Linked DNA regions of Homo sapiens: regions 1 and 2 are each reported to be linked to region 3. The links are microRNA targets in miRTarBase. Many come from high-throughput screens and were not tested one by one. Region 3 holds a microRNA gene; each other region holds the end of a gene's coding sequence.

Region 1 (3,250 bases), not on the chromosome of region 3:
CCATGACCTTCTGCCAGGCCCAGAGAATCCCGATTCCACCCCCAAAGAAGACTAGAGCCCAACTTCTGGATGACATCTTCATTCGCTTGCGGGATCCCCGGAACATTACAGAGGCTCCACTAGGTACGGCTCTGCCACAGCTGCCAGGATCCCAGATCCAGTTCACGCCTGCTGGCTAAAGGCAAAGAAAGGGCTTGTGTCAGTGCAGGAAAGGCCCTTAGAGAGCAACTGCCTACATCAGTCTCTACATGTAGATGGACAAAAGGAGAGCCAGCGTGAGGCAGGGAGTTGCCTAAAATCACACAGCATGTTAAGGTCCTGAACCAGGGCTTAAGATAGAGTCAATGCATAGGGGCAGTAGGAAGTCAGTGACTTCCCAAGCTGGAAAGGCCATTTTTAGCCCCTTAGCATCCTCCTGCCACACCATCCCATTTTCCAAGGGTCTCTGGACCCAATCCTCTTGCTTCTGGCTAGGTGAGAACCAGGATGAGCTTGGTGCCTCTCCTGGCTTCTTTTCCTGCAGGTGCTGTCCTGCACCAGTGGACAGAACGGCGGCTGGTGAACCACAAGCAGTACCTGGAGGCCAAGAGGCTGTTGAAGGAGTTCCAGGCACGTTACCGGCAGCTGGTGAGTGGCTCTCTGCGCACAGTGTTCGGGACTACCCCGCTCCCCATGGCCTGCCCAGCGCTGAGTGAGAGCCAGCCCAAGTTCGGCCACTTCCTCGAGTTCATGGATGAGTTCTGCCAGGAGCCCACAGCCAGTGACTCACAAGGCTAGAGCTGTGCATGGGGGCTGTGTGCACCACCCGGCCTGTGCCCCAGCTCTCCCCGAGGGCTCTGTGCCCTGGACCGCACCTCAAGGTTGACCAGCCGGCCACAGGCCTCAGAGCTCAGCTGGGCCCCACTTGCTGGCCACAAGGTGGCATCCCCTTGTCAGGATCTCCCCTCCTTGGCCCAGGCATGACCTGGTGCCTGGCCCAGCGGCAATAAAGAGTGGGTGCACAGGGCAATAGACTGGGTGCCACATGCATTCTTTCTTGGAACCCAGGCCACAGCAGCATTGTCACACTTCCCTCTAAAAATGGTTTTCCAGTTCAGATGCAACAGGGATACATTTGTTCTCTGTTGTATGAGAAACTGACACCAAGGGGATCTTAACAAATTCCTGAACAATGGCTCCAAAAAAGGGTATTTTTAAAAACCAGATCTTGTGAGTACAGCCCTAATGTGCAGGGACAGTGTCATCCTGTATATTCGTTCTTTACTCAGACTCTTTCTTGGTTCCTTCATTAGGAGCATGAATGGTTGAATGTGAACATGACAGTAAATTGGAGCAAACTGTAAACTGGACATAACTTATGCCAAAAGACGTAGTTGTACACCATGGAAACCCCATCCCTGCTCCTAATCTCTACTGCCATTCTGAATGCCAAAGCAAGACATCCAACATGGGGCATCTCCCAGAGCACATACAGCACCAAAAATCCACACACAGCCTAAGCTTAACCCATGTTTTTGTCTGAGATTGTTCACCAGAGACAAGACTCTGACTATAAACAGAACATCCACTTTCATGAGTTTCCTTTACTGTATTCTCAACTTGGGCCTTGCTTCAAGCAGGCAAACATACATTGAAGAATGCACTTTGGTACTGTTTAAATAACAACACATCAGCCCACTTGATTCCATGCCATGTCCTTGCTGACAGAAACATCCCCAACAGGGCATGCCCTGGTCCAAGTCCTCTGTCTTTGTCAAAATGCTCTTCTGATGAGTTGGAGAGGAGGCAGCCAGCAGTGGCAGTCCACAAGGATCCAGGTACCTTCTCCAATCCTAAAGCAGACAGCAGGTTGAATAAAACCAATACACAACCTATTTTCTAGGCAGGAGGGGAAAAGGCCCTTAGGACAATAATATTTGTACAAAGAGTTGAGAGTAAACAAACAGTGTATCAGGTTCAAAAAAAAAAAAACTATTCGTTGGCATTTAAATTTTTTTCCCTTGCATAGTATCTATTCTCTCACTAGGACTTTTAAGTGCTCTGCTGGAGGCTCAGCGTTGGTAATACCATGTTTGATGCAAACTTGAACCCAATGCTCTCATTGGTGGCACAGCTTTGGAGGGTGGTGGCCCCAAGAAGGGGCAATCTGCCTGCTGCTATATTAATCTGGAACCAGGGCCAACAGCTACTCTTGAACTATGGTATTTGAAGAGCGAGTTCATTGCCTGTTTTACCTTAAATGACAGGAAAGGAAGATGAACAAACCTTGCTTTGCCTTGGCTTCAAACTAGTTCTTGATTTAAGACACCAGAAAGGGAGAGAGGGAGTCTGCTTAGAGTTTGAGGTTGCCTCTCACAAGATGACAGTTAAAAGTTGCCACCTTACTTAAAAGGCATTAAGGAGGCATTTACTCACAAAGGAGAGAGAGTAAATTTTTTTCTTAAGAGGAAAAAAATACTGATAATACATAGAACAATCTGCACATCCAGTCTTGGCACTTTTTCCAATTTGACTGATCTCTAAACTGGTGACCCTTGCATATATCTTAGTCTCTTTTCTACAATCTTCTTCAGAAAGCTACAGCAGCTAACAATCATGTATAAAGATGCATTTCCTAGATCATCTTCAGAAGAAAATCTCTTCAGCACTTTCCCTAGAATCTGTCTCCTGACCACCCCGCCCCAGACCTGCTTTCTCTTTTGAGAATTCATAACCAGGTATGTTTAGATACCAGTTCAAAAGACCACTCTATGGGTTGATGAGGAAAAGGCTGCCTGAGGACAATTTAAGACCATAATGAGTTTCCAATTTTTAAAGAAAATTTGGCTAGCTGGCTTTTAATTCTTAATTAAAATCATTAAATTTAATTAAAATTATTCCAATCAAAATATATCACTTTCCAAGATTCCACATTCATATTACTTACTTATACTATGGAGACTTTCTCTACCTGAGCATGTATTCAGGGGCTATAGGTACATTTAACTCTAACTAACTGAAAAAAATCAGGAAGAAAAAACTATTAAAATAAAATAACCTCCTAAATCATTTGGGGGTATCCCCATCATTGGTGCGTGTGTCTGCGTGTGTCAAACTTTAATGATTATTTATTCAGACCCTGGAAAACCACACTATAAAATAGGGCACTGGATCACAAGTTCGTTTGGTTAAAAAAAAAAAAAAAAAAAAGTGGGGGCGGGGGGCAGAGAAGAAGTTTAACTTGGATGATTTCCATGCCCATTCCAGCTGT
Region 2 (3,250 bases), not on the chromosome of region 3:
CTCTGTCTTCCAAAAAAAAAAAAAAAAGGGAATTAGGTCACATCTCCTCATCATCCCCTCCTTCCTGGGGATGGCATCCCAGTTACAGTTTTTCCTTCCTAGCTAGGGGCAGTGAGATTTGTTGTCTGGTCTACACAATAGCGAACACAAACATTCTCATCTCCTGCAGCATGGCATACAGACTTTACAGAATGTCCTGTGTTTTTGTGGCTGACAATCAAAGTGGTACATGTCCCTCCCATTCCGCACACACCTCTGCTCTTTACCCTGATTAAATTTTCTTCATCGAATTTCTTGGATGTTGACATATTTATTGTCCGTCTCTCCCTGCTTGAGTCAGAGAGTTTTGCCTGCTGGGTACACGGCAGGTGCTCAGTAAATATAGCAGAATGGCGCGTTCCCTGCCTCCCATGACACTTCACCACAGCTGACTTTTTCACATGGCTCAGGGCCAAGGTCATTGCCCAACACCCTTCTCCCTCCAGACTGTGGGCTCTGCAGGGTCTCCCTCTGTGGTGTCTACATAGGCTCCCCAGGCTGGGCACAGAGGAGGTGCTACTAGATGTTGATGTACTTTCTCCACAGGCACAGCCACTTCCTGCCTCCTGAGGACTCCTCTGACGGCAGGAAAACTGGACATGAATGACTGCCCCCACGCCCCTCCCCTGCAGAGTGGCCAGATGGAGTCCTGAGCCCTGGACATGGGCCCGGCTTTCCTGGATATCAGGACTTCCAATAAATAAAGACTCTGTATACTGGGCTTTGATTCCTGCCATCCGTACCTGAGAGGGTCCTAGGAGAGCTGGCTGGGCAGAGTCATCTGTTCCCCAGCTTCACCGGGTGTGCCAAGGAAGTGCCTGGGAAGAACAGGACTCTGCAGCTGTGCCCCAGGGTTGAGACTACCCTGCCTCCCTTGTGAACTCTGCCACACAGCCATTTCCTGACTTCTGCTGCATGTGCCTGGGGTAAAGACCCTCAATCCCTTCCACTCTAGCATTCCCCAAATTGTTATTTTTTTTTAATATATATATTTTTTATTTTATTTTTATTTTTATTTTTTTTTGAGACAGAGTCTCGCTGTCGCCCAGGTTGGAGTGCAGTGGCACGATCTCGGCTCACTGTAGGCTCCGCCCCCCGGGGTTCGTGCCATTCTCCTGCCTCAGCCTCCCTAGTAGCTGGGACTACAGGCGCCCGCCACCTCGCCTGGCTAATTTTTTTTTTTTTTTTTTTTAGTAGAGACAGGGTTTCACCGTGTTAGCCAGGATGGTCTCGATCTCCTGACCTCGTGATCTGCCCACCTCGGCCTCCCAAATTGCTGGGATTACAGGCGTGAGCCACCACGCGCAGCCTATATATATATTTTAAAGACAACGTCTTGCTCTGTTGCCCAGGCTGGAGTACAGTGGTGCGATAATAGCTTACTGCAGCCTCGAACTCCTGGGCTCCAGTGATCCTCTGCCTCAGCCTCCACAGTAGCTAGCACTACCGTAAGCACTTGACACAGTGCCTGGCTGCATTCTCCAAATCTGTTTTCAGTTTTCTGGAGGCTTGGGGGGTGATAAATAATATGCGTCTTTCCCTGCTGAATTCAGAATCAACTGGGCAACAGAGGCATTAGGCAATGGAGATGAAAATACTGGCTTTATTATTGAAAACAACCACATGGAAGGATGTATGGCTTAGAAGGCCATGTACTGGATTTCTTTTCTTTCTTTCTTCTTTTTTTTTTTTTTTTTTCAAGACGGAGTTTCACTCTTGTTGCCCAGGCTGGAGTGCAATGGCGTGATCTCGGCTCACTGCAACCTCTGCCTCCTGAGTTCAAGCAATTCTCCTGCCTCAGCCTCCTGAGTAGCTGGGATTACAGATATCCGCCACCATGCCTGGCTAATTTTTGTATTTCTAGTAGAGATGGGGTTTCACCATGTTGGTCAGGCTGGTCTCAAACTCCTGACCTCAGGTGATCTGCCCGCCTCAGCCTCCCGAAGTGCTGGGATTACAGGCACCGGCCGCCATGCCCGGCTAATTTTTGTATTTCTAGTAGAGACGGGGTTTCACCATGTTGGTCAGGCTGGTCTGTAACTCCTGACCTCAGGTGATCTGCCCACCTCAGCCTCCCAAAGTGCTGGGATTATAGGTGTGAGCCACCGCTTCTGGTCTATGCACTGGATTTCTGTTCTTAGTTTCCAGTTTTCCAGAAGCCAACTCAGAATTTGAGTGCAGATGGTAATTTGAATTTGATTCCAGAAACACTGATAGAGGAATGGAGAAGGGAGACAATAGAGAGGAAGGCAGCCAATAAAAGGTGCATTATCAAGCGAGTTACCACTCTGGGCAACTGGGACTCAGTCCCACTGGGGACCTGTGGGGGACTTTATAGAACATAACCCAGTTACCCTATCAAGGAGCAAGGGAATTGTGTTATCTACCAACTTCCCATCTGTCATTAAGGGGTATTTTCATGGGCATTGACTGGTACTTCTGGCCTGCCCTTTATAGGCCAAGTTCACTTCTGCCATCAGAAGAGGGCCGTAAGCAGAGTATAATGGGATCAAGTGAGCAGCCTTAAACCTGCGGAAGAGATGCTGAGTGGATCTGGGCAGGTACCAACAGTGGCTGCTGTGGCTTCTTCATGCTTCTCAGGAATACAGGCTCCTGCTGTTTGATACAGGCTCCCCAGTAGGGACTGGTCCTAAAGAATAGAAAGCAGACAGGCGTGTATGCAATAGAGGAGGAGACCCCAGAGTGCTGAGCTGAGCATGCCCATGGCCTGCACCCACATTCACCATTCAGACGAGGCCCTCCTCCCTGGAGGTGATCCCAAACCTCTGGAAATTGGAGTAACTGGCCATTTGATACCCAAGGATTATGCTCGGCTTGGAAGAATGAGCCTGGCCTATGGGAGTCTCTCCTAGGGATTAATCTCCAAGACAAAGGAAGTTGTTCATTGGTTTAGGAGCCGGGTAGAAATCCTGTAAGTTCAGGGTTGCAAGATTTTATACCATTTGTCTGAGCTAGGAGGAAACCCAGGTAGTGGAGAGAGAATTGTGATCAGTTCCTGTAACCTGCCACAATCCCTGGTGGACTGAAGAAAGGGTGGCGAATGCAGGAATAAAAGACAAGAGACAAAAGAGTATATTTGGAAGAAGGGGTCAGGGGGCACCTTGCCTCTAGTGGACAAGGGCCCTGAGCTTTACACAGCTTTCTGTATTTATTAGGCAAAAGAGATAGCGAGAAGGCAGGTAGAAGAAGA
Region 3 (3,250 bases):
GAGAGTTTCGAGGAGATGATGGGCGTGGAGGTGGGACAGGGGGACCAAACCACCCTCCTGCTCCCCGAGGCCGCACTGCCAGCGAGACACGGAGCGAGGGTTCAGAGTATGAGGAAATCCCCAAGCGGCGCCGGCAGCGGGGCTCAGAAACAGGCAGCGAGACCCATGAGAGTGATCTGGCTCCTTCAGACAAGGAGGCTCCCACACCCAAGGAGGGAACACTCACCCAGGTCCCTCTCGCTCCCCCACCACCAGGAGCCCCACCTTCACCAGCCCCAGCCCGCTTCACTGCCCGGGGTGGGCGAGTCTTCACTCCCAGAGGGGTGCCATCTCGCCGGGGCCGAGGAGGAGGGAGGCCCCCTCCTCAAGTTTGCCCAGGCTGGAGCCCTCCAGCCAAGTCTCTGGCTCCCAAGAAACCTCCCACAGGCCCTTTGCCACCAAGTAAGGAGCCTTTGAAAGAGAAGTTGATCCCAGGGCCTCTGTCCCCTGTGGCGCGCGGAGGCAGCAATGGAGGTAGCAATGTGGGCATGGAAGATGGGGAGCGACCCCGAAGGAGGCGACATGGGAGGGCTCAGCAGCAGGATAAACCGCCTCGTTTCCGGAGGCTGAAGCAGGAACGGGAGAATGCCGCAAGGGGGTCTGAGGGCAAGCCCTCCCTAACCCTTCCAGCCTCCGCTCCTGGACCTGAGGAGGCCCTCACAACAGTCACAGTGGCCCCAGCACCTCGCCGGGCAGCTGCCAAGTCTCCTGATCTGTCAAACCAGAACTCAGACCAAGCCAATGAGGAATGGGAGACTGCATCAGAGAGCAGTGACTTCACCAGTGAGCGCCGAGGGGACAAAGAGGCACCCCCACCAGTACTGCTGACACCCAAGGCTGTGGGAACTCCTGGGGGAGGTGGAGGTGGAGCCGTACCAGGTATTTCAGCCATGTCCCGCGGAGATCTGAGCCAGAGAGCCAAGGATTTGAGTAAACGGAGCTTCTCAAGTCAGCGGCCAGGCATGGAACGGCAGAATCGGCGCCCTGGCCCAGGGGGCAAGGCTGGCAGCAGTGGCAGCAGCAGTGGAGGAGGCGGTGGGGGTCCTGGAGGAAGGACCGGGCCAGGACGAGGCGACAAGAGGAGCTGGCCCTCTCCCAAGAACCGAAGGTGGGTAGGAACAAACAAATTTATTGTGGTTTAAAAATTGGAGGAGGGGGAAAAAGCCTGAGGGAAAGATAAGTTTGGGTGGAGTGGAGATTGTGGCCTGAGGGGCCATGGGCTCTAGAATGTCAGTAGGATTTCCATGTCTGGCTAAGGCAACTGGAAAGCGGTTGGTAGGGTGTTAGAGTCAAGAACACCCACCTATGTATTCATTGCTGGTTCTTTGCTTTCCAGTCTGTGCATCTGTATGCATAGGAATCCTTAGAAGGACTCAAAAACACCTGGACTTTAATAGGGAAGAGAATAGGTTGTAAGCAGAAGTTGGGAAACATAACTTGTGGGAAAAAGTAACGATTTAGTGGATACTGGAGCTAATGCTCTGTTTTCTCCAGTCGTCCTCCAGAGGAGCGTCCCCCGGGGCTTCCCCTGCCTCCCCCACCTCCCAGCAGTTCTGCTGTCTTCCGCCTGGACCAAGTTATCCACAGCAACCCTGCTGGCATCCAACAGGCTCTGGCCCAGCTTAGTAGCCGTCAAGGGAGTGTAACTGCACCAGGGGGTCATCCAAGGCACAAGCCTGGGCTTCCCCAAGCCCCTCAGGGCCCCTCTCCTAGGCCCCCAACCCGATACGAGCCCCAGAGGGTCAACAGCGGCCTCAGTTCTGGTAAGCTGGAGGGGTTATGGGTGGGAATATCTCCATCCCCAGAGAAGGTCAAGTGCTGGAGGGAGCGGGTGGAGAACCTGGCCTAGGGACCCTGCTGCTGGGTGCGTTTCTGCAGGGAGCAAGGGTAGAAGAATTGGGAGGTGGAGTAGAGAGGAAAAGTTAGGGTCAGTGGCAGAGCCAGGCAGATGCTGACCCTTTTTCTCTTTCCCAGACCCCCACTTTGAGGAGCCGGGGCCAATGGTGAGAGGGGTGGGTGGGACTCCTCGGGACTCTGCCGGGGTTAGTCCCTTTCCCCCTAAACGTCGGGAGCGGCCTCCCAGAAAACCAGAGCTGCTACAGGAGGTAAGGGATGGGTTTGAGATTGTGCTTCACTGCACTCTTACTCGTGAAAATTCTTCTGGGTTATGTTTTCTCTGTTTTCTTTCCTGTTTCTTTCACTGTGTTTTTACTCCAGAATTCTCAGTATTAGTCTCCCATGTGTCTCCCTTGTTGTCCCCACACCCTGTGTCACCCCACTCTGTCCTGGCTTCCTATAATTCCCAATTCCCACCCAATTCATGTTTTGCTTCTGGCCCTTCTCATCTGTAGGAATCTTTGCCACCTCCTCATAGCTCTGGATTCTTGGGCTCTAAGCCTGAGGGCCCAGGCCCTCAGGCAGAGTCCAGAGATACAGGCACAGAGGCCCTGACCCCTCACATCTGGAACCGTTTACATACTGGTGAGTAAAGCTGAGTGAAAGGACTATGGTAGAAGGGTTAAGAATGAGAGGGGCTTCTGAACTGTCATCTCCTCACTTCTCTTCTGGTTGGTGCTCCCTTCTCCAGCCACTAGCCGAAAGAGTTACCGGCCCAGCTCCATGGAGCCTTGGATGGAGCCCCTGAGTCCTTTTGAGGATGTGGCTGGCACAGAAGTGAGTGAGGGTGGGAGGGTGTGTCTGAGCTGGGACTTTTTTGAGCACTGGTCATACCCCCCACCTGCTCTGGGTTGAGTCTGGAGCTGTTCTCTCACTTGGCTGTCCCCTTTCTGCAGTTTGTATGTGTGCATCAGTCAGGTATTGGGGTGCTTTCTACCCTGACTTAACTAGCTCCTTCTCCACTCCTCTCAGATGAGTCAGTCTGACAGTGGGGTGGACCTGAGTGGGGATTCTCAGGTGTCATCAGGTCCCTGCAGCCAGCGAAGTTCCCCTGATGGAGGACTCAAGGGGGCAGCAGAGGGACCCCCCAAGAGGCCTGGAGGCTCCTCACCCCTGAATGCTGTTCCTTGTGAGGGTCCACCTGGCTCTGAACCTCCTAGGAGACCACCACCTGCCCCCCACGATGGGGACAGAAAGGTAAAAGACCAAAAAAGGATAAGGGGAATGTTTCCAGGAATCTGACTTTGGCCCTACCTTTTTCTGCTTTTTCTCTCTGCGTGTGTGTTCTGGGCATTCCAATTTGGATTTCCCTTTC

What was found. The annotated mature microRNA hsa-miR-6832-3p reads ACCCUUUUUCUCUUUCCCAG and lies in region 3 at 1,994-2,013, shown strand. An mRNA with a match to its seed (bases 2 to 7 or 8) in the 3' UTR can be bound and repressed. Matches are read on the target gene's strand: a 7mer-m8 pairs with bases 2 to 8, a 7mer-A1 pairs with bases 2 to 7 and ends in A, and an 8mer does both.
Region 1: the mRNA of XRRA1 is a reported target of hsa-miR-6832-3p. Seed matches in the 3' UTR shown: 7mer-m8 at 1,182-1,188 and 7mer-A1 at 2,312-2,318.
Region 2: the mRNA of CHCHD5 is a reported target of hsa-miR-6832-3p. The part of its 3' UTR that is shown has no 7-base or 8-base seed match.

What each region holds. Positions count from the first base shown.
Region 1 is chr11:74,840,727-74,843,976 of GRCh38, reverse strand. XRRA1 (X-ray radiation resistance associated 1) reads left to right here. Exons shown (of 19, transcript NM_001378157.1): 18 at 18-123; 19 at 524-3,067. The coding sequence ends at 777. It overlaps RNF169 (ring finger protein 169), which reads right to left. Exons shown (of 6, transcript NM_001098638.2): 6 at 1,564-3,250. Among named protein-coding and RNA genes, the nearest start is that of RNF169, 94 kb to the right of the region's middle. RefSeq lists an enhancer at 1-124.
Region 2 is chr2:112,588,281-112,591,530 of GRCh38, forward strand. CHCHD5 (coiled-coil-helix-coiled-coil-helix domain containing 5) reads left to right here. Exons shown (of 4, transcript NM_032309.4): 4 at 586-760. The coding sequence ends at 609. Among named protein-coding and RNA genes, the nearest start is that of CHCHD5, 5.3 kb to the left of the region's middle.
Region 3 is chr6:31,631,846-31,635,095 of GRCh38, forward strand. MIR6832 (microRNA 6832) reads left to right here and starts at 1,942; the gene lies at 1,942-2,013. PRRC2A (proline rich coiled-coil 2A) reads left to right here. Exons shown (of 31, transcript NM_004638.4): 16 at 1-1,147; 17 at 1,534-1,802; 18 at 2,014-2,144; 19 at 2,391-2,520; 20 at 2,627-2,712; 21 at 2,908-3,132. RefSeq lists a silencer at 2,834-2,997.